Linked DNA regions of Homo sapiens: regions 2, 3, 4, 5 and 6 are each reported to be linked to region 1. Evidence: microRNA targets listed by miRTarBase, many of them from high-throughput screens and not tested one by one. Region 1 holds a microRNA gene; each other region holds the end of a gene's coding sequence.
What was found. The annotated mature microRNA hsa-miR-3977 reads GUGCUUCAUCGUAAUUAACCUUA and lies in region 1 at 3,609-3,631, shown strand. An mRNA with a match to its seed (bases 2 to 7 or 8) in the 3' UTR can be bound and repressed. Matches are read on the target gene's strand: a 7mer-m8 pairs with bases 2 to 8, a 7mer-A1 pairs with bases 2 to 7 and ends in A, and an 8mer does both.

Region 1 (5,089 bases):
GCCAACATGTGCAGATCACATGGTGAGAGAGGAGGCAAGTGAGAGGAGGAGGTGCCAGGCTGTTTTCAACAACCATTTCTCAGGGGAACTCTCATGGAAACTAATATAGTGAGAGCTCAGTACCACAAGGATGACACCATGCCATTCATGAGGGATCTACCCCCATGACCCAAACATTCCCATTAGGCTCTACCTCTAACTTTGGCATCAAATTTTAACATGCAGTCTGAAGGGTCAAATATCCAAACTATAGTCAGATAGATCAATAGATGAAAAAATTGGAAAATGGCCTAATAGCAAAGTTGTAATTTCATATTGTAAGCAATAGATGAGGGTAGCAGGTGGGGAGTGCATCTTGTCTTAGTCTGCTCAGGCTGCCATAACAAAATAGCAAACACCAGTATTTTTTACTTAAACAACAGATATTTATTTCTCACAGTTTTGGAGGCTGGGAAATCTGAGATCAAGGTGCTGATAAATTTGATTCTTGGTGAGGGTCCAATTCCTGGCTTGCACATGGTAATCTTCTCACAGTATCCTCACCTGATGAAGAGAAGACACCCTGGTGTCTCTTTTTCTCTTGTAAGGGCATTAATGCCATCACTAGGGGCTCCACCCTCATGGTATTATCTAAACCTAGCTATCTCTCAAAGGCCTCAATTTCTAATGCCATCACATTGGAGATTAGGGCATCAAAATATGGATGTGGGGGGCACACAAATGTTCAGTCTGTAAGATGGCTGGTGAGTTGGCCATGTCTTGTTAGAGTAATAGTTGACTATCCAGAATAGTTACCCTGTAGACAATTGCGTGCACCATCATAGTACTCAGCAAAGACTTACCTAAGTTCAGGATTTGGGTTTTTTAAGTCATCAACCTAAAGATCATGGTTTAAACCAAAGATGTACCTAAGGTGACACATGTAGACAGTATAAAGTGAACAAAGAAGAGGGCCAAAACCCCTGGATACTCCAAGGGACACAGAGAGAAAGGAATCTGCTTAGGAAACTAGAAGATTCTGTTAGAAAAGGAGGAGAAAGGGAATGTGGAATCAAAGAAGCGAGAGGAGTCAAAGATCAGGGAAGGGCTGAAAGATTAGCATGCAGCCACAGTCCTTCCTATTCGCCAACTATTTTGCTTACAATTTTGTTATCTGATCATTCCAGATGCTAGTAACCTGATGATAGAAAAATGCAAAAGTATCTTGACTCAGCCTGTTTTCAGTTCAGACTTTGCTACTTTTTGTGTCACTGTCAGAGGTGTTGGAACCAGAGCGACTCTATTTTGAGTGAGGGCTAGGAAAATGAGGCTGGGATTTGCTGGGCTGCATTTCCAGAAGGTTAGTCATTCCTAGCCTCTAGATGTCTATGGTTAAGGGAACAAATTAATAATGTTTGCTAAACAGACCCAGACTTGGGCATGTCCAGATATCCCGATATCTGGAGAACAAAGGCATTCCTAATTTTGCTTTAAAGATAATAATATTGATTCTTGCAAAATATAGTAATCAAGCAAATTAATCCTTTATCACAAATCCTTGTAGCAGAGCACATCTCCCCATATATACAAGTATTGTACTTAGGGTGGATGTGTTTCTCTTCTTACTTTCAGGAACATCCTACTCTGTCTATGGAGTAGACATTCTTTCACCACTTTACTCGCTTAATAAACTTGCTTTTACTTTGCACTGCGGACTCGCCCTGAATTCTTTCTTGCACGAGATCCAAGAACCCTCTCTTGGGGTCTGGATCCGGACCCCTTTCCTATAACATCTTTCTGGCAAAACCTAAAGGGACTACAGTGAGGAAACCTTTGACCCAAAGGCTAACTTTGGGTAAGTGGTGGGGTCCTGTAACATCTTTCTGGTGACACAGAAGGGACTATAGAGCAGAAACCCTGACCCAATGGCTACCTTTGGGTAAGTGCTGGGGTCCTGTAACATCACCATCAGCAAATCATTTAGCCCTTCAGGAATGCAGTGTTGTCACCTACAAATGGAAATATTTCTAGCCACATCTTCTCCTTCACAGGGTTGTTGTGAATATTGGGTAAAATCATACTGTGCAAAGTGATAATATTTCAAAAGTCTCCTGCTAAGCTGCAATACCTCAACTGAGAAGGGCTTATTATCACCCATAATCACATTCATGGATGACTAATTCTCATCAGCTTTCTCTCGGAGATGGAACATAAGCTCAAGTGATCTCAGGAAATGTCCATAGCAGGAAACACAAAGCTGGACATCAGAAGGACGCTGAGAAGACAGATGACAACAAAGGACAGGGGGTGTTGAAGAGGAAACTTGTCCAGGACCAGAATTACTGGGAACATGAATTTACAGCATTCCAAAGTCCTTACAGTTTAATGAAAGGAGAGGCAGTCCTTTGAACTCAAGTTTTAAAGATGTTACATTTAAAAGGCACATGCAACAGAATAGGCCCTTTCCAAGAAACAATAGCGTTTAAGTGCTGGCACAATTACCAGCAGGTTTTCTATGTTAAATATATATTCTGAAAATAGAAAGGACATTTCATACAACTTTTTCTTTAACCAAACAATCAAGAAGCAAGTGGTACAGCTCTCAGACCTTCAGATGACAATTACTGAACTCAGGGAAGAGAAATGTTTCTTCCCCTGGGACCTCTAAAATTACTGGTAACATGACTATGGAAAATGTGTCAAATAAACCAAAGCACCAACTTCAGAGACGGAAAGTCATTGGCTTTCCTGTGAAAATATCAAATATTTCACAGTTACTTGGCCAAATGTATGCTCACATTAGGTCAACAGAACATATTGTAATATTTTTCATTTATCCTGCTCTGCATGTATTATTAACATATTACAAATAAAATGAAAGTGATAGGTAGGAGAGAGTGCAGACTAGATGTCTTTATGGTCTAATTCGTTTTGATGAAGGCAGTTGCTATAAGGCACTTTCCCATTCAGGGGTTTAAGTCTTCCAGCCTTGGGCATAAGGAGCAGAAGAAATCCTTGGTGTAGAAATAAATGAAATAAAGAAAACAGGACTAAGGAGATGCTCTACCAAGTGGGGGATTCTAAGAGCCAAATTTTCTTCAATTTGTTTACTCATTCGTAAAAGGAATTCACACATCAATTATTGATTGAAACCCTTTAATGTGCCAGACACATGGAGGGGGACATGTTGCAGGGAGAGCAGGAGGGAAGTGGATGAGGCCTTTGCTCTTAGGAAGCTTCCAATCTAGGAGAGAAGACTTCTATTAAACAATAATTAAACAAAGCGCCACATCACTATTTGGATAGAGAATGGGTATTGAAGGGAGATGAACAGAAACTCAACTGGGGCTATAGATATCTACGTTAATGTCTTCAACCTCTTCCTTTCCTCAGATTGCTATATGCCTCCATGCTTTTGATTCTCTCTCTTCCTTTCCCTCTCTTCCAGTGTTCCACTGATTTTAGCAACAATTAAAAAAAAATCAAAAAAAAAAAAACAAGGAGTGGGGCAAGCCTTGGGTTGTGTGCCAGAAGCTGAAGAAACTCCTTAGCTCAGCATAGAATCAAATGCTAGCTTCTGTGGCAGCCAAAGTGAATCTATCAGACTAATGACATTCACAGTCTACATTGTGCTTCATCGTAATTAACCTTAAGTGGTTCGGGTAAATCACTTTAATTTGTTATGTGTTGGCAGAATCAAACTACTTTTTTTGCTTCTTCTTTGCCTTTTAGTTTAATCTTGTTTATCATCAACATCATAGCTTATGCTAGGAAATTATCAGTGGAAGCCCCTGTTTTCTACTATCTGAAATTCCTTCCACAATGGAAAGAAAGGGGAGTGGTGTCTTGCATCTCAACATGATAGCTGGCATGAATGAGAGTGAAGAGCCTCTTTCCAAGCAGTTTTTGTGTTTTTAATTTCACATTCTTTTACTTGAAGAGGGCCCCCAAATCTTGGATCCACCCTTAAATGATATTAAGACTAAAAAAGTATATAACCCATAAGAATAAAAAATGTTGACTAAAATAGATTGATATCATATCAGTGGGACATCAGAATAAAAGACATATTTGTGTGTGAGACAGAATAATAAAGGGAAGAAAAGGGCATAGAAATAAACATAGCTGGGCTGAGCGCAGTGGCTCATGTCTATAATCTCAACCATTTGGAGGGCTGAGAGAGGAGGATCCCTTGAGCTCAGAAGTTTGAGACTAGCCTGGGCAACATGTTGAGACCCCATAGCTACAAAATTTTTTTTAAAAAATTAGCCTGTAGTGCCAGCTACTCAAGAGGCTGAGGAAAGAGGATCACTTGAGCCAGGAGGTTGAGGCTGCAGCGAGCTGTGATCACACCACTGCACTCCACCCTGTATACAGAGCAAGACTCTGTCTCAAAATAAATAAGTAACTGGTTTATTCTACCTTTGGTTGGGATGGAGCATTCTTCAAACATTCAATGAATATTTACTGTGCACTCCTATGTGCCAGGCACAGTTCCAGAAAAATGAGATACATCAGGAAACAAAACAATCAATAATGCCTACCTTGTGGAGCTTACATTCTAACAAGGGAAGATAGACAATAAACACTAAGCATATTAAGTAAGCATATATTGCATTAGAAGGTGATAAGCATAATGGGAGGATTGGGAGTTTGGGGTAAGGACATAGAAGATTTGAAAAACACAATCAACCAACAAGATAGATGCCATACTCTGTATATGAATACTCCACGCAATAATAGCAGCAGTCACATTTTTTTCTTGCACCCATAGAATTTCAAGATAAACAATATCCTGGAAAATAAAATGAACTTAGATAATTAAAAAGAGAAGGAAGACATTTGGCTTTTACTGAGAATGAACTGAGGCTCATTGTAGGGTGTTGAACAAAAGGGACCTTGTAAGGCTGTTCTGGCTATTGCATTTCCTCTTGTTGGGGAAGAGAGGCACAAAGCTAGAGGCTAAGAGAACAGTTAGGAGGCTGTTGCCACCACCTGAGTGAGAGATGGTGGTGGTTTGGGGTCAAGGTCTTAGCTTTGAAGGCAAAAAAGAGTAGCCTGATTGTGCTAACTTCAGGGAAGTATAATACAAAATTGTTTTAATATTGCT
Region 2 (5,089 bases), not on the chromosome of region 1:
TGAAGCCCAGGCTGGAGTGCAGTGGCATGATCCCGGCTCACTGCAACCTCCTCCTCCTGGGTTCAAGTGATTCTCCTTCCTCAGCCTCCCAAGTAGCTGGGATTACAGGCGTGCACCACCATGCTGGGTAAATTTTACATTTTTAGTAGAGACGGGGTTTTGCCATGTTGGCCAGGCTGGTCTTGAACTCCTGACCTGAAGTGATCTACTCGCTTCAGCTTCCCAAAGTGCTGGGATTACAGGCGTGAGCCACTGCGCTTGGTGGAGAATCTGAGCTTTTAAACACTGAACCATGATACATTACTGATGATAATGGGCCCTCTTTCTAAATGAATCAGGAATATCATTAGGCTTATCAATTTTTATTTGATATATACAGAAACTACTGTGGTTTAATACAGGATTATTTATGTACCTACAGGATACAGTTGTCCCCATCTACTGTTCTTTTGATTTACTTTGTCTGCTTTTTATAGTTTTCTCTGTCCTCTCTGAAAAAAAAAGAATATTTTCAGTATATCTGCCTCTACAAATTGTCTTCTTCCCTTTCATGTTCTACTTCCAATTTCATAAGAGTCAGAAACCAGATCACCCCACATGTTAGAATTGTGTCTAAAACAGGAGTCAAGAGGCCTTGGGAGAAGACCCGAGCCTTTAGTGAATGGACTTGGTGACATCTGTGACAGGGATCTTTATTTTTTGGCATGTTTTCTGTTCTTAACTGTGATCCAGATAGTTTAAATGGCTGGATAAGTGACTTCTCAGTAAGCGAGGTGTCACAAAATATAAACTCAAGGCATTTCTATTCTTCCACCTGTTCAAAAGTGTTTTAGTCATCATCATAATTGGAAGGATGGCCTAGTTCCTCAAGCTTCTGGGTAGCCATCTGATGCTTGGAGGTAGAGAGACGTGGCTACAACTTGTATAAAAATAGCCCTTCCAGATGGCTGAGGGGCAAAGTTACAACTCAGCAGCTCGATATAGCTGAGCACTCAAATTTTGGAGTAGGAGGAGAGCTATGTGAGAAGTAGCCAGAGAGACTGGGCTGGAGCCCAATCATAAGTAGAACAGTATATGCCAGGAGCGATCACTTAACGTGCAGATTAGCTGTTAAGTTTTTCTGTTACTTCATCTCCATCTCCTCCCCAACTCCCTTGATTCAACCTTACTTCTGGCCCTAAGGAAACACATACACATACGACATAGACAGATATGCACACACACTTTCCCCTTTTTTTTTTAAAGGAGTATAAAATAGAGGAACAAACCATAACTCTTAAAAGGCTTCAGAATTCTACTAGTCTAACCCTTCATTTTAGAGATAAGCAAACTGAGGCAGAGAAAGGTGTGGTGACCATCCAGGATGTGAGCAGGACTCCCACGCTCCAGGTGCTCTGCCAGGGCTCATCTTCTGGCTCGTTTGTGGGACACTGATAACAGCGCAGCTATCCCAGGACATGTTTCCTCCAAGTCTGCTTTGACTCATTTCAAACTCTAAATAAAGCCTTTAGTTAAAAAAGAAAAAAAAAAGTATGGGCCCAGCGTAGTGGCTCACGCCTGTAATCCCAGCCCTTTGGGAGGCCAAGGCAGGTAGATCACGAGGTCAGGAGTTTGAGAACAGCTTGACCAACATGGTGAAACCCCATCTCTACTAAAAATATAAAAATTAGCTGAGCGTGGTAGCACACGCCCGTAATCCCAGCTACTCAGGAGGCTGAGGCAGGAGAATTGCTTGAACCTGGGAGGTGGAGGTTGCAGTGAGACAAGATCATGCCACTGCACTCCAGTCTGGGTGACAGAGTGAGACTCCATCTCAAAAAAAAAAAAAAAAAAAAAGAGTGGATTATTGCAAAAGTCATGATAATGTCTCCACCCTCAACACAAATACTCAAGCTCTAGTCCCTGGCTTGAAAACCTGTTTCACCAGTGAAAATATTTACTAATCAAATTAGTAAATATTAAATTGTGTAGTTCCCACTTTTTATTTTAAATCTTTTATTCACTCTGCATTTCTATTGGATATTCTGGAAGAAAAACCTCTGTAGTAAATCCATTGTTTTAAATATCTCAATGTCTGTTCAAATAATTGAGTGTTGGTTTTAAAAAATAGTCATTAGGAATGGGTTAGTACTTACGTTTTAGCAATTGTAATGAAGACTTTAAAAAAAAACAAAAAAACAAACAAAAAACACAAGCTTATTGAGAAACATGTTACACTCCTTTAACATCATTTATGATCCCCAAAGGCAAGGCATTGCTGTTCCCTGGTGGCTGTACAGCATCACTGCAGGTAAGCGATTTGGAGGTAGAAAAGGTGTTGAGTGCCAGCCTTTCAAATTCAGTTCTACAATGAATCAACTTTTAAAAATACTCCCAGTAGCTTGCATTTTCTTATAAGAAGGGTTTACAGGTAGCAAAAACAAACAATCCCCAACGAACTTTTTCCAATACTATAGGATTTGTGCTGCCCAAGTAAATATTACATTATTGGAAAATAGCATGTTACTTTTCAAGAGGAAGTTCACTTCCTTCTTATGGAATTTATCCTTAAACTGTATGGTATATGGGCTTTGTGCAAGGTGCTGGAAGTAGGCAAGGAGGCCTCAACCATGATGTACACACACTATTATAGCACCATTGCTCTCCTGCTACTGAGTCACATAGCTCACCAACTGGGGAGGGGTCACCACAGAAAGAGTAATGGAGCGAGATAGGTACAAGCATTTTTTGATTGCCCGCCAAGCACCTGGGCCTGTGCTAGCCCTGTTAAACTTGGCTGGAGCAATCCTGCTAAAAGGTCAGGCTTGATTCATGAATAGGTGTGCTAATTCTACTCCGGATACATCCCCGTCATCCTGTAGCATACAGGCCTGAGTGAAGCTGGCCTAGAGCAGGGATTCACCTGCTAGATAATTATTGCCCAAATTAAGAATGCAAGTCAGGGCATGATTTTCAACGCCTTTATTAAGAAATATCAAAAGTTGATTACAGGTCCATATGCAGTTTTACAAAGTTCAAGTGAAGAAGACTGTAGGGATGCCATCAATGTGCGTGTCTGAAGACTATGGAAGCTTGTCAAAGGGGTAACCCTACAACTCCTGTCACTTTAACAATGGTCCACAGCAATGCTTTTCCCCCATTTCTACTAGGCTAGGCCATTGCACAATACCTTAAGCTACTTAAAAGAGTTTTAATACGTTATAAATACGTACATATTTGTCCTTCTAGTTTGTTACCATCCTTCCCTGAAAGAGCGGAGCTGTTTATAGGAAGCACAACATTTGAGTCCCATTCACTGCTGTTTGTATTACATTTTCACAAAGCCTGCTTTGAAAGCTGGCAAACACTGCAAGTTACATGTTACCATATTACACATGGGAGGACCCATACACATTGTTATTTTTAAATTTAACATTGAACAAAAAAAAGGAGGAATCACTTAACTTGGAAACAAAACACCAAAGTTAGTCAGTGGAATGGTCAAGAGCAGGACAAGCCTGCCAGGGCCACTGAACTCCAGTCACAAGTGGTCAAAAGTATGACCGAGAACAACTGGATGCAGGAACATCAGCACAAAATACAGATGGGAATATTCTCGGGAGTGGTACATCACCATCTTGTATGTGAGGGATATTGTGTCAGAGGGGAATTACACTTTCAAAATAACCAGGGCTAGTAGGTCATTAGTACCAGATGGGGAACAGCAATGGTGTGGCATGCCTTGTTTAAGGCCTGCGCTGGTTTATCTAAAAGTAGATTTCTGAAAAGATTGTCCAGTAGCATCAGAAAGAGCCACTTTCAGAGGAAGGACTCCTTGTTCACCCACATCAGACTGCGTGTCTCGTTGGGCTTGCATTCATACTCAATGACAGAGAAGGGGCTTCCCCACTGGCAGTGATCCCGCTTGTGGTAATTGTAGAACTTGACTTGCCACACTGTCTCGAAGGTCCCAATGTCTGTGAACTGAGGGAAGAGAAACATGCCTGATAAAAAACCTCATTCTGCCACGAGCAATAGATGAGAGCTAACATTAGTGATGTAGCTCCTGGATAATCAAGCAGACCCAGTCCAGATTCTCTTGGTCTGCAAGGCTCGGAAGGCTTTCCTTTAGTGGTCTAGCTCCCTCCTTTATGATGGGAGATATTTTCCTAAAAAGCTGTCTGTAAACCATTCTTCTCTATAAAATCTGATTCCCATTGCAAACGTGCCACTCGCTATCATATTGCTTTTAATAAAAATAACTGCAAAGTTTATCTTGTTTTTCAAGTTTAATTTTTTGAAAACTTAGAATTTTAAAGCTTACTCTAAAATGGCCCCTGCTGGCCAGGTGCAGTGGTTCACCCCTGTAATCCCAGGCTGAGGCAGGATGCTAGCTTGAAGCCAGGGGTTCCAGAATAGCCTGAACAACAAAGCAAGATTCTGTCTCTAAAACAAACCCCCATGTTCATCCCCCAAATGGTCCCTGCTACAGAAGGGGAATGGCGAAGGGAAGAGAAGGAATAAAGTTTACTGGCTTTTCTCAAAATACAATGGTACAAAACAACCTGTCTACAATACATCTACATAAAATTTCCATCATTAGTTTCAATTCCAAAGAAAAATATTTCAAAGTGATAACTGAAAATATTTCATTGGAAGTGTTAAAGGCCATATTTTAACTATTAAACATTGAATACTTATAAGTCAGGAGTCCATGCCTACATCTTGGGCTTAGATTATACATTACCCAGAACCATATTTGAGTATCTGCTATGTACCTTGCATGTATAAAAATTCGTATAAGGCAGGATTGTTGCTCTTAAGAAGTTAGCATTCTACTTCCAGAAGGTAGGCCCTGTAAATCACTGCACAGAACTCTCCTGAGGTATAAAGTACACATTTCTCTTGCAGCTGAGAAGAGTACCTGGAATACCCTGGAGGCCACTGGGCAGATGCTCAAGTGGCCTGTGGGGTAGCCTGACCCTGCTACTGCCTTCTGGAGCTATTTAGGGGATCTGGCATTAAACTGCATGATGCCTGTCGTTATTTTCTCCTCTGACCCTCCCCTGTCATGGGAGGGGACAGGGACTGACTTGGCAGGACTCTTAGA
Region 3 (4,374 bases), not on the chromosome of region 1:
CTGTCCCACGGGGGAAGCCACGTGCAGCTGGAGCCTTCGTCCTGGCCTCATGGAACCTGTGTACCCACTTTTGGGGTCAGGCATAGGACGCTGTGCTACGGGAACTCTGCTGGGAAGGCTGGTACTCCCATCAGTCTCGCCGGGCCGACAGCCCTGTCTACCCATCCCTAAGGCCTTGCCCAAGCCGAGCACTCTGAGCCTGACAGCCATACCCCCCAGCAGGAACCCTGGCTGCCACCCTTCCAACCCCTGCACGAGGGGTGAAAACTTCTTGCCCCTCTTCTTGCCCTCCCCTGGCCCTGGGAGGTGGGCGTTGTTACCTTCGCCCCCATTTTACAGAAGAGGAGCCTGAGGAGCAGGCTGTGTGGTCCTCCAGGTGGCAAGTGTGCAGTGTGAACCTGGGCCTGTCATTAACCTCACCAGGCCCTACTAAGGACAGGGGACCCCAGTGGGCCAGGTCTCGGGCAGCCAGGCACTGAAGACAGGCTGGGAGCGGGGGCACCCGCTAGCCCCCCAGGCCCCAGCCCACTGCCACGCTTCTCTTCCAGGAAGCCATCCTCATCTCCCTGGCCGCCCTGCAGCCTGGCCTCATCCAGGCGGGTGCCCGGCACACCTGAAAGTTCTAAGGGGCCGAGGACATCAGTGAAGCAGCAGTGAAACCAGGGGCTCTGCAGGTCACTTGGGACGGACGCCACCAGACTTGTCTCCAAAAATCACCACCTTTAATACTCCCCGGCCTGCACACACCCACAGTCTCACTGGGCTCCACCCTCACTTACTGCCCGCCGTGATGGCCTTGAGGCTGCCTGCCCGCGCCAGGATGTTTGGCACAAAGAGCAGCCCCGAAGCCCGCTCAATGCTCTCGATGGGCACCAGGAAGCGCTCCAGTGGGATGGCCTCATCCACAGGTGCGTTGGGCATCACGTAGGTGCGGAGCTCAATTTGCCCACCTGCTGCCTCCAGGATCAGCACCTTGAAGAAGTGTGTGGGCACTGCCACGTGGTTCTTGCCGATGACCTGGTACTTTACGTAGGATTTCCCATCAGCCTCTGTCCTGTGGGCAGACCCAGGCACACGTGGGCAGGGGGCCTGGATGAACCCAAAGCCACCTCTTCCAGGCAGCCTTCCCTGATCTGTCCTCTAACTTCTGTCAACCTGCAGGACCACGCCCTCACTGTGAGACTTCTGTAGCCTGCCTGGCTCCTCCTTGAGGCTGGAACTCTCTCCAGGGTGGTTAACTCTTTCCCTCTGTTTTCCTTATGCCCAACACTGGGTCAGGCAGAGTGGGCGACAATAAACGCTGCTAGGAGAATCGAGCCTTCTGAATATTCACATTCGTCTGAGGGGAGACTTAACGACTGTCCATCTCTCCCCACAGAGGTGAGCAACAAGTGGGCAAGGACCATGACAGGTGATATCCCAGCACCAGCACAGGTGCCAGGACACCGGACGGGGGCTCCCCCTCAGCAGAGTCTCCTCCCTTCCACCAGGCCCTAGGAGGCACCTGCTAATGAAATTTGATCAGTGCCCCAACCACCGCCTTGGCCAGCCTATGCCGAGCCCTTACCATGGACCAGGCCCTGGGGAAGCATGTGACATCAACCAAGAGGTCACAGGTTTTGCAGAGGGGGACACAGGTCATTTGCCCACAGCACCAAGGAACTAGGTGATGAGGCCTGGACTCCATCCCGAGCCTGTGGATTCCAGAGTGAGCTGCTCAGCCTGGACCTGTTGCCTCTCAGCCCCAGCCCTCTGCAGGCCAGAAAAACCACGGAGCACACCCAGAGGTGCTCAGTTGCTTCCACCTGAGAGGCAGGGCTGCACAGGAGCAAGAGTGGAGGCCCTGGGTCAGGCAGATCTAGATTCAAACTCCCGAGAAGGGTGGAGGGAAGTGCTCCAAGCAGAGCAGAGACTGAAGGCGGGAGAGCCTGGTGCACCGCGGACCTGCAGGGGGAAGGCATGAGAGCTCGGTGCACTGGGGACCTGCATGGGGAAGGCGGGAGAGCTCGGTGCACTGGGGACCTGCATGGGGAAGGCGTGAGAGCTCGGTGCACTGGGGACCTGCATGGGGAAGGCGGGAGAGCTCGGTGCACCTCGGACCTGCAGAGGGAAGGTGGGAGAGCTTGGTGCACCGCAGACCTGCAGGGGGAAGGCGGGAGAGCTTGGTGCACTGCAGACCTGCGGGGGGAAGGTGGGAGAGCTTGGTGCACTGCAGACCTGCGGGGGGTTCCATATTGGCAGAACAAGATTGGGTGGGCATGCCAAGAGGTGACAGCAGGGAGAAGCGGGGGCAGATTCAGGGCCTGCTGCTGCCCATGGGCAGAGGAGAGATGGTCAGGGGTACCCGACAGGTCTTTGGCTGTGGAGGTGGAATGAGGGGACTCGAGGCAGGGAAGCTGACAGGCTTGCCAAGAAACCAGATGAGTAGGGAACTGGTATTGACCCAGAGCCTGGGGCAAGCCTGGCCCTGTGAGTGGCAGTAGGGGCCTCAGGTGAGTGGGAGGTTCTGCCGCCCCCCTGGTTTCCACCTTACCTGGGCAGGAAGAGTGGCCCTGTGCAGACATAGACGTTTTGGTAGCTGCGGGTCAAGCTGCGGCTATATTTCTCCAGGTTGTTCCAGGCATTCTGGTTGAGGTGGGGCACCTGGTAGGAGAGATAGGGCTTAGCAGGACTGTGGCTGGGACCCTTCCTCCTCTATCAGAGGGCCGCCCCAGGTCCTGAGGGGATGGACAGGCTCAGAGATATCCAGTGAGACAAGCGGGGGGAAACTGAGGCTCAAGGAATGAAAGTCACTCCCTGAAACCCAGGGCTGATAGAGTGCTAGCCACCACCCTCTGTCCCTCCCACAGCCCAGGTGTCAAAGTCTTTTCTCAGCTCCCAAGAGTCGAATGAAGGAAGAGCCTGTCTCCACCTTTCAGAGAGGACTGAGGCCTGTCCCCAGCCCCACCCAGGGTCTCCTGGGAAGACCAGCCCTTCCAACTACCAACCCGTTCCTTTTCCCAGTCTGAGCCACAGGAAGAGCCTAGCGGGGAATGCCATGAATCGACCTCCATCCTGAGCTCTCCAGGCCTGGGACAATGGAAAGTGGATAGGGGGCTGTCTTCCCAGAAGGAAGCTGGGTCAGAGGTTGGTGCCCCATGGGCTCCACCCAGAGCCCCATGGCAGTCTCCATCCATTGGTGCCAGGACCTGCTGGGAACAGGCTGAGAGGGTGGTTGGCCCAGTGCACAGTGCCTGGCACTAACAACCTGATCGTGGGCCAGGTGTCTGCCTCGAAACTGCCTGAAGGCAGGCAGGGTAGGACAATGTCTGGAGGCTCACGGTTTTATAGACTAGGGGTCCCCAACCCCTGGGCTACAGACCGGTACCAGAACCGGGCCACACAGCAGGAGGTGAGCAGCAGGCGAGCAAGGGAAGCTTCATCTGTATTTACAGCCACCCCCCCATTGATCCCACAGCAGCCTGAGCTCCGCCTCCTGTCAGATCAGTGGCGGCTGGAGATTGTCATAGGAGCTGGAACCCTATGGTGAACTGCGCATGTGAGGAGGTTGCGCGCTTCTTTTGAAAACCTAATGCCTGATCTGTCGTTGTTGCCCATCACCTCCAGATAGGACTGTCTAGTTGCAGGAAAACAAGCTCAGGGCTCCCACGGATCCTACATTACTGTGAGTTGTATATTTCACTATATGTTACAATGTAATAATAATAGAAATAAAATGTACATAAATGTAACGCACTTGAATTATCCTGAAACCCGCCCTCACCCACCAAGCCGTGGAAAAACTGTCTTCCACGAAACCGCACCCTGGTGCCCAATAGGTTGGGCGCTGCGGTTCTACAACAGACAGCCTTCTTCTGCTGTGTGACACTGTGCCCGTCACTTTGCCTCTGTGAGCCTCAGCGCCTCATCACTACCGCAGGAGGAAGGTGAATAACGGTATTATCCCCATTTTTTTGACGAGGAAAGCGACGCTCAGGGAGGTGCCCAGGGTTCGCAGTTGAAGCTCAAGCCCTGGTCGGCCTGCAGACCCTGTGCCTGGAGCCCAGTGCTCCTCCCTCCCGCCACGGGATGTCACTGCGATGCCTGACCGGGGGCGCGTTGGGCAGCTGCCCCGTTCTGCAGAAGAACAAACCGAGGCCCCGCGAGGCCAGGCGCCGGCCCCGCATTCCGCGACCGGCCCGGGGCGCGGGCGCTACCTGGGGCGCGACGTTGCTCAGGTAGAACGTGTCGTCCATGGCCTTCTGGCTCCAGCGGTGGTTGGCGGCGGCGGCCAGGTGACCGCGGTCGAAGCCACTGCCGCGGTAGTCGGCGTTGGTGGCACGGTGGTACGCGTGCACCGAGTCGTCCTCGCGGAAGTCGCACTCGCGCCGGTCG
Region 4 (4,000 bases), not on the chromosome of region 1:
CTAAAATCTTGAGTAGCATAAAGTTCTGGCTCTTAGCCCTTGTGAAAGGGCTTCTCACTGGAGAAACACCATCAAGATGTATGTCTCAGATGCTCCTTACATTCTTAGCCTCTGAGTCCTACCCTGTTGATAGCACTGATTTTTCTGGAGGCTTTGTTGAGGGCTGAAACTGCCAAGGATGGCTTCCATTTTGGATTCACCCTTTGTTGTCCTATGCCGTGAGTTAAAATGCTTTGTCTTTCAAGGCACTCTTATTTTGAGAGTTATTGAGATGATCTCTCTGACTTATAGTAATGGAGAACAGTTTCCTTTTCTTGGTAGACAGTAATATCATTGAAAGCTTCACTAGCCAGTTTTCTCACCTTTTGTTTCTATTTTAGGCAGAAATGGACCTTAAGAGACTGAGAGACCCATTACAAGTACATCTGCCTCTCCGACAAATTGGTGAAAAAGATTGATCTGCAAAAAGCCTCTGAATCCTGGCAGAAGGAACACCTGTTTGCCTTTTTAATTAAAGCATTGCAGGTGGAAGCTGGGAGCCATGTGGGGGGTAGAGCGTTTTTACCTTTAATTATAAAACAAAAACAGAAAGGATCTGAGGGAAGAAGGGAATGTTAAAACCTGAGGATCAGGCATTGTGGAATATAAGCTCAAAGGGCTTAGTGAATATTGTCTTAACCAAGTATCTCAGTTTCTGGATGAAAATGATGCAGTTATATAGTTGAGAGATTCATAAAGAGAAAACAATGCTGGGGGTGTTCGTTTCTTGCATCTTCTTTGCAGAGTCAGCAAAAGAGTAACACACCAGCACCCCACTCGACTCTATTTGTTTTTAATTTAACTGTCCCTATTTTTGACATAGGAGTAAATAAATATACTAGAAAAGCAAATTCTCATGATATGCTAAAATATCATTAGCATTTATTTTAAATTGGACCCAGTCTCTGCAGAGTTACCAGGAATCTTTCCTTCCAGCATCCCTTTACTGACCACCTACCTGTACCTCTTGGTTACACTCATTTTTTCCATTTGATAATTGGAACCAACTTATAACTGTTTAATAATTGACACTTTAGATTATCTCTTAATACCTTCTTAAATGTCTATATATCCCAGTGCTCTGGATCAGTGTCTAAAAATCACTGGCAACACTGCATGAGGTTGTTGGTTTTGTTTTGTTTTATTAATTAGTCTTTCACAGGAGGAATAATTGCCCTCCTTTATATACTTATCTATTGATAATCCCCTCTCCCTCCAGAACACAAATCAGAGGGAAAGGGGGTGTTCAGCTGTACTACCAAATCAGGAAGATGTAAGGTTTACAAATTGGCTAAGAATCATGGCTCTGTAGCCATTTCAACCAGAATAATTTTATTGCTAATCTGCTTTGTGTGACAGCATTCCAGGCCAGCCAGATGGGACTGCCTTGTCTGGAGGCTTTGTTCATCTCGAAGGACACACACTTCCACACTGTTTGTGAGCCCTCCCACCTCCACAACTTCAGTTGTAAATCAAGTGTGTGGATCTCAAAGGGTGCAATTTATCTTTATATAGGAATACATTTCTAGGGCTTCCTTCAAGCCCACTCTCTTCACCCTATTTTTTCTTATCTTAAATTGAGAGAAAGAGAATTAATCTTATACTTTGTCAAAACATTTTCTACCATATTTCCAGATGACATCTGCGCTTGAAGAGTCAAAGGAATCTGTGTCTAATATCCTGTTTTTAACTGCTGTAGGGGCAGGATGGAAAGGATGATGGGGGCTGCCACACCACTGATTGGCCTTTTCTTTCACGTGATTCATCCTTCCTCATTGTGGCAAGGAGTTTCTTTCTCTTTTTCTTCCTCCTTTGGGATCATTGTGTATGAAAAGAAAAACTTTAAATGACAAACCCAGACTCCAGGTGCCTTGCAAAGGTTGAAGGCCAGCCAGGATTGCTGCTGCTGCTGCTACTCCTGCCAACACCCCTTTCATTGGCATGACGGAATGAAAGGATGCATGTCTCCACTTCCTGACCCTCCGCCCACTTCCTTCTCCCTCCACCACCCCCAGTCGTCAGCTCCTTCCCTCATTTATTTTTGTTAAGTTGTGTGAATTATTTTTAACCCATTTATCCTGTTTGTGCATAGGGTTTTTAAGAAGAAACAGCACAGTGCAACGAGCAAATCTTTTTGGGGTGTGTGGGAAGCAAGGGAGGGAGGACATGGAGAAAAGTTCTTTAAACAAATAGCAAACTATTGAACATGTGTAAAATCCTGTATCATTTATGAAATATGTATAAAAAGCAATGTACCTTCTGGAACAATAAATACTTATTCAATTTTTGAACGATAGCATCTCATTCTTTAAAACAAAACCAGAAAAACTACATTTCCTGTGATTCTAGGTGGGAAGTTTTTTACTTCTAAAATTCATTTTTATAAAAATATCATTATCAAATTAAGCTCTTCCTTAAGCCTATATTTCAAAAATAGGCATTTCACTAGTTCTTCCTGAACCTAAGATAATCAGTATTTTCCTAATTTTCCAGAGCCACCAAGAGGTTGAGTGACCTGTACAACCGTTAATAAAGTCAGCAGCAGCAGTCTCAGTGAGCCTGAATCCTCATCTCCTGATTGACAGGAAAAATCTCTGTGGTATCAGATCACCTGGATTGCCCAGTGCTATGGGCTCCTGGACTCAAGAAAATTGTTCAAAGACGCACCAAAATTAAGTATTCATTATTTTCAGAGTTTGTATCAAATTTACAGTGGTAGCCAAACAGGAAATATCACATGCTGCCAAGATCACCACAGGCATATTTAAAAACTTGTATTAAATATCTGGTTGCTGGAGTGCAATATGAGGTGCTGTTCAAAGAGCCTCTGTAGCTGTGGTCCTGCCTTCTGGCAGCTTACAGCAGCCTAACGCAGACAACCCTTACCCCCATGTAAAGTGTAAGAAGGTAAGGTTTGACAGAGCAGAAGCATCGCCATCTTGGACAAGCACTGCCATTTTAAGTTCTCCCAATTAAAAACCGCCTAAATCCAGCCCAGAAAACATCAGCCTAATGGCTAATGTCAGCATGACCATAAACCATAAATGACACCTTAGACCAGAAACTTTCCAACCCTGAGATAAAGCCCCCTCTGACCAGAGACATCCCAGCCCCGAGATAACCTCCCCTCCGAACAGACATTCCACCCTTGAAATAAAATTCTCCTCCACCCAGAAACACTCCGAGCATGCGATAAGCTCTCCCTTGCTAAACCCTTAAGTACCCTCAGTCTGTAAGACAGAATGCTCCTGATTGAAATCAGCCAGAATACTCCCCAAAATAAACCTGTCTTTGACTATTGAGCCACTTCTTGTGTTTCCTCCTTCTTTCTTCAACTCTTACAAGGTTGAAAATATTAAGTCGTTTTTTGCATTCAACAAATGGTATCTACATACTTCACACATTCTGTTAAGCTTTGCAGGGTTGTGTTTGTTTTGGTTAGGTTTTTTAAGGAAAATGAAAACATGATTCCTGCCTTTAAGGAGCTTACAATTTGAAGTTTAAAGCAGGAGTATCCAATCTTTTGGCTTCCCTGCACCATACTGGAAGAAGAAGAATTGTCTTGGGCCACACATAAAATACACCAACACTAATGATAGCTGATGAGCTAAAACAAAACACAAAAAACCCTCAATGTTTTAAGAAAGTTTACGAATTTGTGTTGAGCTGCACACGGCCTGCAAACCATGGGTAGGACAAGCTTAAAGTATAGTGAACAACAAAGGAAACCTTATTAAAAAATGGGCAAAGGAGTTGGACAGTTCTCCAAGAAAATATATAAATGGCCAATAAACATGAAAAGATGCTCAACATCACTAATAAGGAAAGGTAAAACTACCATGAAATACCACTTCACACCCATCAGAATGGCTATTATCAGAAAAAGCAGAAAATAAAACGTTGGTGAGAAATTGGAACCCTTGGTACTCCTGGCGGGAATGTAAAATGGTTCATCTCCTGT
Region 5 (5,089 bases), not on the chromosome of region 1:
TCTTTTGATATAATCTGTTAAAATTTGCTTAGAGACAAAAGTATGCTTTATTTAGTAAAAATCATATGTATTATTTCTGAGTCAAGGCAAATTTTGAAGCAGTAAGGTATAAATTAAGATTTTCCTTTCAAAACTCTTAACAAATTATAGTGCATATAATTTATTCTGTATTTCCTAATATATAAGTATTTTTCACTCATTCACTTTAGTAATAGATGCTGAAAATAAACTTATTAATGACTACAAAGTTTTTGGTTGCTTTATTTAGGGTTATAGTACAGGTTGAACATCCCTAATCCAAAAATTTGAAATCCAAAACATTCTAAAGTCTGAAACTTTCTGAGCACTAATATGGCATTCAAAGAAAATGCTCACTGGAGCATTTCATATTTGAGATTTTTGGGTTAGGGATGCTCAAATAGTAAGTATTGTACAAATATTCCAGAATTCAAAACACTTCTGATACCCAGCATTTTGGATAAGGGATATTCAACCTGTATTTTGTTTCAGTCATGGGAAATAAACTATGTTCTGATTTACTTTTGGTAACTATGTATTTTGGACATAAGGAAATCTGAGTTTCAGGCTTTGAGGAACATTTTTCTAACATGTAATTTTCTTAATCTCTTTATTTTAGGACTAATTGTCAGCCTAGAAAAGGAACTTGCTCCATTGTTTGAAGAACTGAGACAAGTTGTGGAAGTTTCTTAATCTGACAGTGGTTTCAGTGTGTACCTTATCTTCATTATAACAACACAATATCAATCCAGCAATCTTTAGACTACAATAATACTTTTATCCATGTGCTCAAGAAAGGGCCCCTTTTTCCAACTTATACTAAAGAGCTAGCATATAGATGTAATTTATAGATAGATCAGTTGCTATATTTTCTGGTGTAGGGTCTTTCTTATTTAGTGAGATCTAGGGATACCACAGAAATGGTTCAGTCTATCACAGCTCCCATGGAGTTAGTCTGGTCACCAGATATGGATGAGAGATTCTATTCAGTGGATCAGAATCAAACTGGTACATTGATCCACTTGAGCCGTTAAGTGCTGCCAATTGTACAATATGCCCAGGCTTGCAGAATAAAGCCAACTTTTTATTGTGAATAATAATAAGGACATATTTTTCTTCAGATTATGTTTTATTTCTTTGCATTGAGTGAGGAACATAAAATGGCTTGGTAAAAGTAATAAAATCAGTACAATCACTAACTTTCCTTTGTACATATTATTTTGCAGTATAGATGAATATTACTAATCAGTTTGATTATTCTCAGAGGGTGCTGCTCTTTAATGAAAATGAAAATTATAGCTAATGTTTTTTCCTCAAACTCTGCTTTCTGTAACCAATCAGTGTTTTAATGTTTGTGTGTTCTTCATAAAATTTAAATACAATTCGTTATTCTGTTTCCAATGTTAGTATGTATGTAAACATGATAGTACAGCCATTTTTTTCATATGTGAGTAAAAATAAAATAGTATTTTTAAAAATATAGTTTGAGCACTGTATAGGTCCTTTTTTTGTTCAGACTTTTTCCAAAAATCTAAACATAATTAATATACTCTTTCAGCCACATGAATAAATAATGAGTGTTTCTTGTAGGTATTGGTTTGGAGATTGTTTTACGGTAGTATGAACTGTTAACTGGAAAAGAAACCTGAGATTGCAGTCAGCCAAGATTGTGCCACTGCACCCCAGCCTGGGCAACAGAGACTCCGTCTCAAAAACAAAAAAGAAAAGAAACCAAGAAACCTCAGGCATGAACCTAATTTAATCTCCATGAAAGAGGTACTACAGTTCTAGAATATACCCTTTATGTTCAGGAATGCAGTCTATCATTCAGAGTTAATTTCTTTCTAGGCTCTTTGACAATCAGTTTTTCCCTGGATCAGTTCAGTACATATGCATTGAGCACCTGTGTGCCAGTCAGCCGAGCTATCACATTGCACAATTCTAAGAAGCACCATTCATGTCTCATCATATTTCTATGCTCTGGGAGTTGCCTTTCACATAGAATATGTGTGATTGTTATCCCTAGAATTGTGCAGTGAGGCAATTGGCTAGGTGCTGTGCTGCTTTTTCTTTCTTTCTTTTTTTTTTTAAGAGACAGAGTCTTGCTGTGTTGCCCAGTCTGGAGTGCAGTGGTGGCATGATCTTGCCTCACTGTAACCTCTGCCTCCTGGGTTCAAGCTGTTCTCATGCCCCATTCTCCCTTGTAGCTGGGATTACAGGCTTACACCATCGCACTTGGCAAATTTGTGTATTTTTAGTAGAGACAGGAATTCACCATGTTGGCCAGGCTGGTCTTGAACTCCTGACTTAAAGTGATCCACCTGCTTTGGCCTCCCAAAATGCTAGGATTATAGGTGTGAGCCACTGCACCGGGCCATGTGCTACTTTTTCTTCCTTCCATCCTTCCTCCCTTCTTCAGTGTAAATATGAGATTAATTTGTGATACCTTACTTTAAAGAACTTAGAGTTCAGTAAAGGAAGCAGGTATAGAAAGTGCTATGATAAAGCTATACATAGGATGGTATAGAACCACAGACTAGGGGCACTTAAAATGGGCAAGAAAATAGCCTTTGTAAATAAAATAGAGGCAAGAGATATAATGCTTTACCTGCAAAGAGCTATAAATACAGCCATGTACCATATAATGATGTTTCAGTTAGTGAAGGACCACATACGAGGGTGGTCAGAACAGCAGGCTATACCATATAGCCTAGGTGTGTAGTAGGCTATACCATATAGCCTAGGTGTGTAGTAGTAGGCTATACCATATAGCCTAGGTGTGTAGTAGTAGGCGATACCATATAGCCTAGGTGTGTAGTAGTAGGCTATACCATATAGCCTAGGTGTATAGTAGTAGGCTATACCATATAGCCTAGGTGTGTAGTAGGCTATACCATATAGCCTAGGTATGTAGTAGTAGGCTATACCATATAGCCTAGGTGTGTAGTAGTAGGCTATACCATCTGGGGTTCCTGTCAGTACAGTATGATGTTCACATAATGATGAAATCACCTAACAAAGCATGTCTCGAAATGTATCCACATTGTTACGTAACACATGACTGTAGTTAATTGTTACAATTGAAATACTAGATGTACTCATTGAAATCCAGAATTCCCATTATCTGGATTATTTAATATCGTTCAGGAAATTTTTGCCAGTGCAATGGTGCATGAAACAATGTCTTTTAGAAATGAGGTGGCCAGATTTCTATTTGCAGATAATAATTGTATATCTAAAAATCCTAGAAAAAGAAATGATAACAAATGGAGCTACTTAACCTTTACATGTTGAATGCTGCCACTGTTAAAATTTCTGAGGGGGTATAATAGATAAACTATCCCATAGTTCATCTGGAAAAATAAGGTGGTGAAAATTGCTAAGAAATTTTTGAAAGGGTAATGTAAACCTAGATTAACTGTTTTTGAAAGGTAGTACAGAACTGAATGCACAACTAGATATCAATGGTATGTACTCACCCAGAAAAAAGACTTCAGTACATACATGTGAGGGCTTAAAACATTGTTATAAAGACGGGATCACAATGGGAAAAGGATTATTCAATAAGTAGGGCAGGCATTCTCTATGCCTGCTAGGGAAGTGTGACTTGTTATACTCTTTATGTACAGCAATTGGCAGTCTGTGAAACTTTTAAATTCATATACATAACCTTTTGCCCTGCAATTCCACTTCTAGAAATTTATCCTACCAAACAAAGCACATAGATGTGCAAAAGTATGTATTTACAAGTATATTCTTTGCAACTTGGTAATGTCAAAGAATTGGAAGCAACCTAAATATCTGCCATAGGTAGGATAACCATATGCTTTGGCTTTTTGAACACTACCAGTTTATACCTGCTGTTCTTGGATAATTATTAATAGTGCTTTCATTCTCAATGTCTCACTTTAGATAATAAATTACAGAGGATTGGTGAAACTAATTTGCCCAATGGAAAAAGGAATGAAGAAGTGCTTTAGGTACTGAGATGAAAAGATCTCTAAGGCATAATAATGTTTATTGAGAAAAGCATGGTGTCAAACTGTATGGCATGCTACAATTGATGTATAAGAAGAAAAAATGTGTATGTATTCCTATTTGTTTGTATATGGTAGACTGTCTCTGAAGACATATATGGAAGAACCTGATCACATTGGTAGTCTCCAAGGAGCAGAACTAGATACCTGGGGGATAAGGATCCCAGGAGTGAGCCTTTTCATTGTAAACTTCATTGTACTTTGAGTTTTTAACTGTTCAAAAATAATAAAATTAGAAATAAAATATTTCAACAAACAATAAAATGGGATATTTGGGGAAGAAAGTTGTCTCAGGGCTCTCCAAAGAAGCAGAACCGGTTGGACATATGTGTATTTATTTCAAGGAAATGGCTTATACTATTGCGGGGACTGGCAAGTCTAACATCTGTTGGACGGGCCAGAAGACTGAAAAGTCTCAGGTAGGAGCTGAGGCTGCAGTTTCAGAGCAGAAGTTCGTCCTCTTGGAAACTTCAGTTTTGCTCTTAAAGCCTTTCAGTTGATTGGATGAGTCTCACCCACATTATGGAGGATTATCTCTTTTACTTAAATTTAAGGGATTATAAATGTTAAGTACATCTCCAGAATACATCCACAGCAGTACCTGGATTCATGTTTTAATAACTAGGCAATGTGTCCTAGCCAAGTTGATGCATAAAACTAACGTTCACAGTCCATTCCTAGTCAGCTTGGCACCTGTATGCATCTTTTTTGTTGTTTTTTGTTTTGTGAGACAGAGTCTCACTCTGTCACTTAGGCTTGAGTGCTGTGGCCTGATCTCAGCTCACTGCAACCTCTGCCTCCTGGGTTAAAGCGAGTCTCCTGCCTCAGCCTCCTGAGTAGCTGGGATTGCAGATGTGCACCACCACGCCTGGCTAATTTTTGTATTTTTAGTAGAGACGGGGTTTTGCCATGTTGGCCAGGCTGATCTCAAACTCCCGACCTCAGGTGATCCGCCTGCCTTGGCCTCCCAAAGTGCTGGGATTACAGGCATGAGCCACCGCACCTGGCCTGTATGCATCTTAAACCATATTTTA
Region 6 (5,089 bases), not on the chromosome of region 1:
TTTGCTTGATTGCTCTGGCCCGAACTTCCAATACTATGTTGAATAGGAGTGGTGAGAAAGGGCATCCTTGTCTTGTGCCCATTTTCAAAGGGAATGGTTCTAGCTTTTGCCTATTCAGTATGATATTGGCTGTGAGTTTGTCATAAATAGTTTTATTATTTTGAGAAATGTTCTATCACTAAATAGTTTATTGAGAGTTTTTAGCATAAAGGGGTGTTGAATTTTATCAAAGGCATTTTCTGCATCTATTGAGATAATCATGTGGTTTTTGTCATTGGTTCTGTTTATGTGATGGATTATGTTTATTGGTTTGCATATGTTGAACTAGCCTTGCATCCCAGGGATGACACCGACTTGATCATGGTGGATAGGCTTTCTGATGCTGGATTCGGTTTGCCAATATTGTATTGAGGATATTCACTTCAATGTTCATTAAGGATATTGGCCTGAAATTTTTGTTGTTGTTGTTTCTCTGCCAGGTTTTGGTATCAGGATGATGCTGGCCTCATAAAATGAGTTAGGAAGGAGTCCCTCTTTTTCTATTGTCTGGAATAGTTTCTGAAGGAATGTCACCAGCTCCTTTTTGTACCTCTGGTAGAATTCAGCTATGAATCTGTCTAGTCTTGAGCTTTTTTTTGGTTGGTAGGCTCTTAATTACTGCCTCAATTTCAGAACTTGTTATCAGATATAACAGACATTTACAGAACTTTCCACCCCAAATCAACAGAATATACATTCTTCTCAACACCACATTGCACTTACTCTAAAACTGACCACATAATTGGAAGTAAAACACTCCTCAGCAAATGCAAACTAATGGAAATCATAACAAACAGTCTCTCAGACCACAGCGCAATCAAGTTAGAACTCAGGGTTAAAAAACTCACTCAAAACCACACAACTACATGGAAACTGAACAACCTGCTCCTGAATGACTGACTATTGGTTGAATAACAAAATTAGGGCAGAAATAAATAAGTTCTTTGAAACCAATGAGAACAAATACACAACATACCAGAATCTCTGAGACACAGCTAAAGCAGTGTTTAGAGGGAAATTTATAGCACTAAATGCCAACAGGAGAAAGCAGGAAATATCTAATATCAACACCCTAACATCAAAATTAAAAGAACTAGAGAAGTGAGAGCAAGCAAATTCAAAAGCTAGAAGAAGACAAGAAATAACTATGATCAGCGCAGAACTGAAGGAGATAGAGACATGAAAAACCCATCAAAAAGTCCAGGAATTGAGGAGCTGGTATTTTGAAAAGACTAACAAAATTGATTTTTATGTATCTGCTTTGATTGCCCTATAACTCTAGTTATCTGCAGAATTGTACTGTGGCTGCCGTAAGTCACCTCCTCAACACTAATGCCTATGTGGACGTTTGTGAATTGAAAAACAAAACAGTGAACACTAAATTTGTAAGGCAAGTTGCTGTATCCAGCATCTCTGTTAATTAATCCTCATCTTTAACTTTGGAATGTAGTACAGATAAGTTGTTTGAGCCCCTGCTATCACAAGACCATTGTGGATGAACTTCCATTCAATACATGAGCAATGCACAGAAATTGGAGAAGACACTGCATTGGCAGTTTCAATCAGCAGGCTAATGGCATTCATTTATATGTGAGCTGATTTTGGTAAATTGCTTAGCTTCCTTGGGCCTCAGTAGTATCACTGGGAAGTGGCAGTAAAAATGACTGTTTTTCGTCCTTCACAGAGTTTATCAGAATCAAATGAAAATTGATATGTGAAGGCATTTTTTAAAGCACAACGTGCTTCACAAATTTGAGTTTTTGTAGTAATTTTAATTAAGTGTGTGGTGTCTTCAAAATTTCTTTCAGGCAAGGTTGCAGGATATAACTTATTTGTTGAAGTTCTGTTATCTCTCTTGGAAGCATCACAGACAACATGAGTCATTGAGAGAACTATTATTATAACATTCACAGTAAATAATAATAGCACTAACAGTGCACACAATAAATACTCATACTTTGGGGGCTTAGAACAAATCAGAACATGGATCCTTAACATGAAGTTGCCCGTAGGCAACATTTGCTGCATGTCTCTCCTTCCTCTCTTCTTACATATGAGCTTTATTTTCCTACAGGTGTTTCTAGGTTTTCATTCCTCATGATCTGGGATGGCTTTCTATCCAAGGATACTGGCGTTTGATGTCCTACTTTGTAATTTTTATTAAGCTTTTCTGCCTTTAAAGTGTCATGTACTATCATCTCAAAAGAGTTTAACTAGTAACCTGATAAATGTCAAACATATAACAAATTCCTATTATTAAGCTGAATTGAATATGGTATTAATGGGATATCTTGACTTTCATGTCATCATATCCTAATGACATTCTATTTGGTTAGAACCTTCTGAACCTTCCTCCAGAAGTAAGAAATGAAATGATCACAACTTTAGCTAGAAGACTTTTGACCTCAAATCTTTAATTTTAATTAATTTTTAACCCACTTAAAATTTGGGTTAAAAATTAATTAGTTGCCAACATATTAAAATATGAGCTTATGTTACAAAGTCCCAGCTTTCTGACTTCTCTTGAAATATCAGCACATTTAGCAAGATTGGGTCCTCCCTAGCACCAGCAGCAGCCACTGAGGAGCAGCTGGCTCCTTTGGAAGGGCAAGCTGTGCTCAGTGCACTAGGGTCCCCACGTGTTCCACTTCATTTAGGTAAGTCATCTGCCTGGCCCCTGTAGGATCTGAGTTTATGGCCCTTGTTGAACCCACAGAAATAACCTAATTAAGTCCTATCTCATAACCAGTTAGTCACGGGTGAAATCATGAACAGATGGTTTAAGGTGAACATATGTTGTTGATCTGTTTCTCTTACTTCATTAACCATTTTGCCAGCATTTGAAACAGTCTAATCATATGTCAGAAACCATAACTGGAGTAGAAGTTTATAGGGTGATAATCTAGAGTATCTTTGAACTGTTTATTTTTAAATTCCAAGTGAAAGCTGCTTTGAGGTTTGATCTACAGTTCAAGGTAGAATTTTACCAGCTCAGTAAATGTGAGTTCTAAGCATGTTCCGAATTCTGTGCCTCACACATTTCTGTGATGCCAGAGTATTAGAAGGGACATCTCCAGTAGGATTTCTATGACATATATTTATGAAGAGTAAAAGGCCTCCCATGAAATGTCACCATTAGTGATATGTTAGAGGCAAGGATGAGGGGGCCTGGAGATGATGTTGGTAGCACTTTGAAGCTTCCAGAATTTTCTTAAGGCTTCACAAACTCCTTCCCTCATTCCCTATGCCTAAGGTGAATAAAATTGATGCAGGTAAACCTAAGATAAATAAAAATGAAGTTAAGTTAATAGCAGTGGGCAATTTAGCAAGAGAACTATAACCAGTATTGTTTGTGAACAATTCCCCATTTTTTTCTTTTGATTTCAAGAGCTCCATTTTTCTTAAATCAAAGTGTGACTATATAGGGGCCTGAGATTAAGGTGTGAGCCTACAGAAAGGGGTTCAAAGCACCTACTTGGTATATGTTAGTGAAATCGATAGATCAGAAGCACAAAAAGAGTATTTATCATTCCACATGGTCTGAAACAAGACACAAAGCTAGAAGTCCCCCATATAAAGGTTTGGGGTTAAAGCATTTCTATGTCTGTGCCAACAAGGAGAACTTCCAAGTATAGCCATGGCCATAGGGTGTGACTGGTAAAAGATCTGGGCATCTTGGATTCAAAGATCTTATCATTGCTCACAGAAAGCCCTTGTACATGTCTGGCTTTGGGCCAGGGCAGGTTAGCCTAACCATCAACAACCTTCCTAATCATCACCAGTAAACTGGGAAATTATCCACTGGGATAGACACAGAGTGCTCTAGGGAGAGATGGTAGAGCAAATACCAAGAGAACAACTCATTTGACATATAGACAACCAACTATCTCGTGCACAATTAGTAATTAAAATTCTCTCTCAAGACCCATGTAACCTGGCGAGTTATTGGGTCAATAATATACCATGTGTGAAAATATGAAAATCATCACAAAAGAGCATGATGATGGAGGCTCCATACCTCAGTTTAGCATTTTCTAGCTATGTTGACTCAGATCAAATGTAGTACAATCAGGAAAAAAAGGATGGATAACAATAACTGTAATGACGGTCACAGGAAAATAGCAAATACGTAGGATGAGGGAAGTTACTTTTTCTTCTTGATGAACTCACAGACAAAGTACATGGTAAGATGGCACTCTGTGTCATTCCATCTGCCAGAGCTCAGCATCTCCACACAGTCCTCATGACCATAGGGGTCGCTGGGTTCCCCCTCATTCCAGTTGCTATAGTTCTGCAGTGGAGTGTTGTCTGTGAACATGTACTGTCCCTCCCTTTCAAGGTCATTCACGCCAATGAACACCCGAAAGAAGCCACTCTTGGCAACATAGTCAGCGATGAGTGTGTTGGCAGCTTCATCCTTGGGCATGGCTAGCATTCCACCCCGAATCCTGCAGTGGGTTAGGGATTCCCTGTAGTTCTTCTCTTCCTGCACGATGTAGTAGAATTTCTCTTCAGTTTCCCTAATCCCTGCTATCACTGCAGGGAGAGAAAAAGGAGTATCATTACGTATCTCAAAAAGATAAAAGGCAACAAAATTATATGATATTGCCAGATTTACATTTATTTATTCAATATTCAAGAATTATTTTTCAAAGCCCTATTATGAGGTAGTCACAGATTTAATTACCCCCACCTCTAGTTAGCAAATAGAGAACACATATCTACCGTTTGTTCTCCCTTCCTTTTCTCCTCAACTTCTCACACACCTGGCCAGCACAAAGTTGACAAAGACATGTTACATGAACTTTCAGCCAGCCCATCTCATACTATATTTCCCAACATAGTTTATGCTTTAGCTATACTGGTGGCTACATGAGCAGGCCCTTTTCTCTTATACTTCCAAGCCTTTTATGCCTAGAAAGTCTTTTCTACCTGGTAAACTTCTACTCATCCCTTTAGATCTCAGTGGAAATATTTTCCCCTATAAGAAGTCTTTCCAATGCCCTTGGATAGACATGGCAGTCACTCTCCCGAGTTTCCATTGCCCCTT

Region 2: the mRNA of CNRIP1 is a reported target of hsa-miR-3977. The part of its 3' UTR that is shown has no 7-base or 8-base seed match.
Region 3: miRTarBase lists SPOUT1 as a target of hsa-miR-3977. Seed matches in the 3' UTR shown: 7mer-m8 at 644-650.
Region 4: miRTarBase lists MCU as a target of hsa-miR-3977. Seed matches in the 3' UTR shown: 7mer-A1 at 2,187-2,193.
Region 5: miRTarBase lists LAMTOR3 as a target of hsa-miR-3977. Seed matches in the 3' UTR shown: 7mer-A1 at 3,804-3,810.
Region 6: the mRNA of COLEC10 is a reported target of hsa-miR-3977. The part of its 3' UTR that is shown has no 7-base or 8-base seed match.

The regions. Positions count from the first base shown.
Region 1 is chr5:82,836,549-82,841,637 of GRCh38, forward strand. MIR3977 (microRNA 3977) reads left to right here and starts at 3,607; the gene lies at 3,607-3,676.
Region 2 is chr2:68,290,064-68,295,152 of GRCh38, forward strand. It overlaps CNRIP1 (cannabinoid receptor interacting protein 1), which reads right to left. Exons shown (of 3, transcript NM_015463.3): 3 at 2,947-3,963. The coding sequence ends at 3,799. All of the region lies in intron 1 of PPP3R1-AS1 (PPP3R1 and CNRIP1 antisense RNA 1), which reads left to right. Among named protein-coding and RNA genes, the nearest start is that of CNRIP1, 27 kb to the right of the region's middle.
Region 3 is chr9:128,819,008-128,823,381 of GRCh38, reverse strand. SPOUT1 (SPOUT domain containing methyltransferase 1) reads left to right here. Exons shown (of 12, transcript NM_016390.4): 12 at 549-3,731. The coding sequence ends at 617. It overlaps ENDOG (endonuclease G), which reads right to left. Exons shown (of 3, transcript NM_004435.2): 1 at 4,197-4,374; 2 at 2,534-2,643; 3 at 706-1,054. The coding sequence ends at 772. KYAT1-SPOUT1 (KYAT1-SPOUT1 readthrough) reads left to right here. Exons shown (of 25, transcript NR_182311.1): 25 at 549-3,731. Among named protein-coding and RNA genes, the nearest start is that of ENDOG, 2.7 kb to the right of the region's middle. RefSeq lists enhancers at 3,879-3,968, 3,919-4,374.
Region 4 is chr10:72,885,365-72,889,364 of GRCh38, forward strand. It overlaps MCU (mitochondrial calcium uniporter), which reads left to right. Exons shown (of 8, transcript NM_138357.3): 8 at 381-2,330. The coding sequence ends at 458. Among named protein-coding and RNA genes, the nearest start is that of OIT3, 6.4 kb to the right of the region's middle. RefSeq lists an enhancer at 1,647-1,941.
Region 5 is chr4:99,877,616-99,882,704 of GRCh38, reverse strand. It overlaps LAMTOR3 (late endosomal/lysosomal adaptor, MAPK and MTOR activator 3), which reads left to right. Exons shown (of 7, transcript NM_021970.4): 7 at 638-4,369. The coding sequence ends at 711. Among named protein-coding and RNA genes, the nearest start is that of LAMTOR3, 14 kb to the left of the region's middle.
Region 6 is chr8:119,105,286-119,110,374 of GRCh38, reverse strand. It overlaps COLEC10 (collectin subfamily member 10), which reads right to left. Exons shown (of 6, transcript NM_006438.5): 6 at 1,920-4,575. The coding sequence ends at 4,184. Among named protein-coding and RNA genes, the nearest start is that of COLEC10, 41 kb to the right of the region's middle.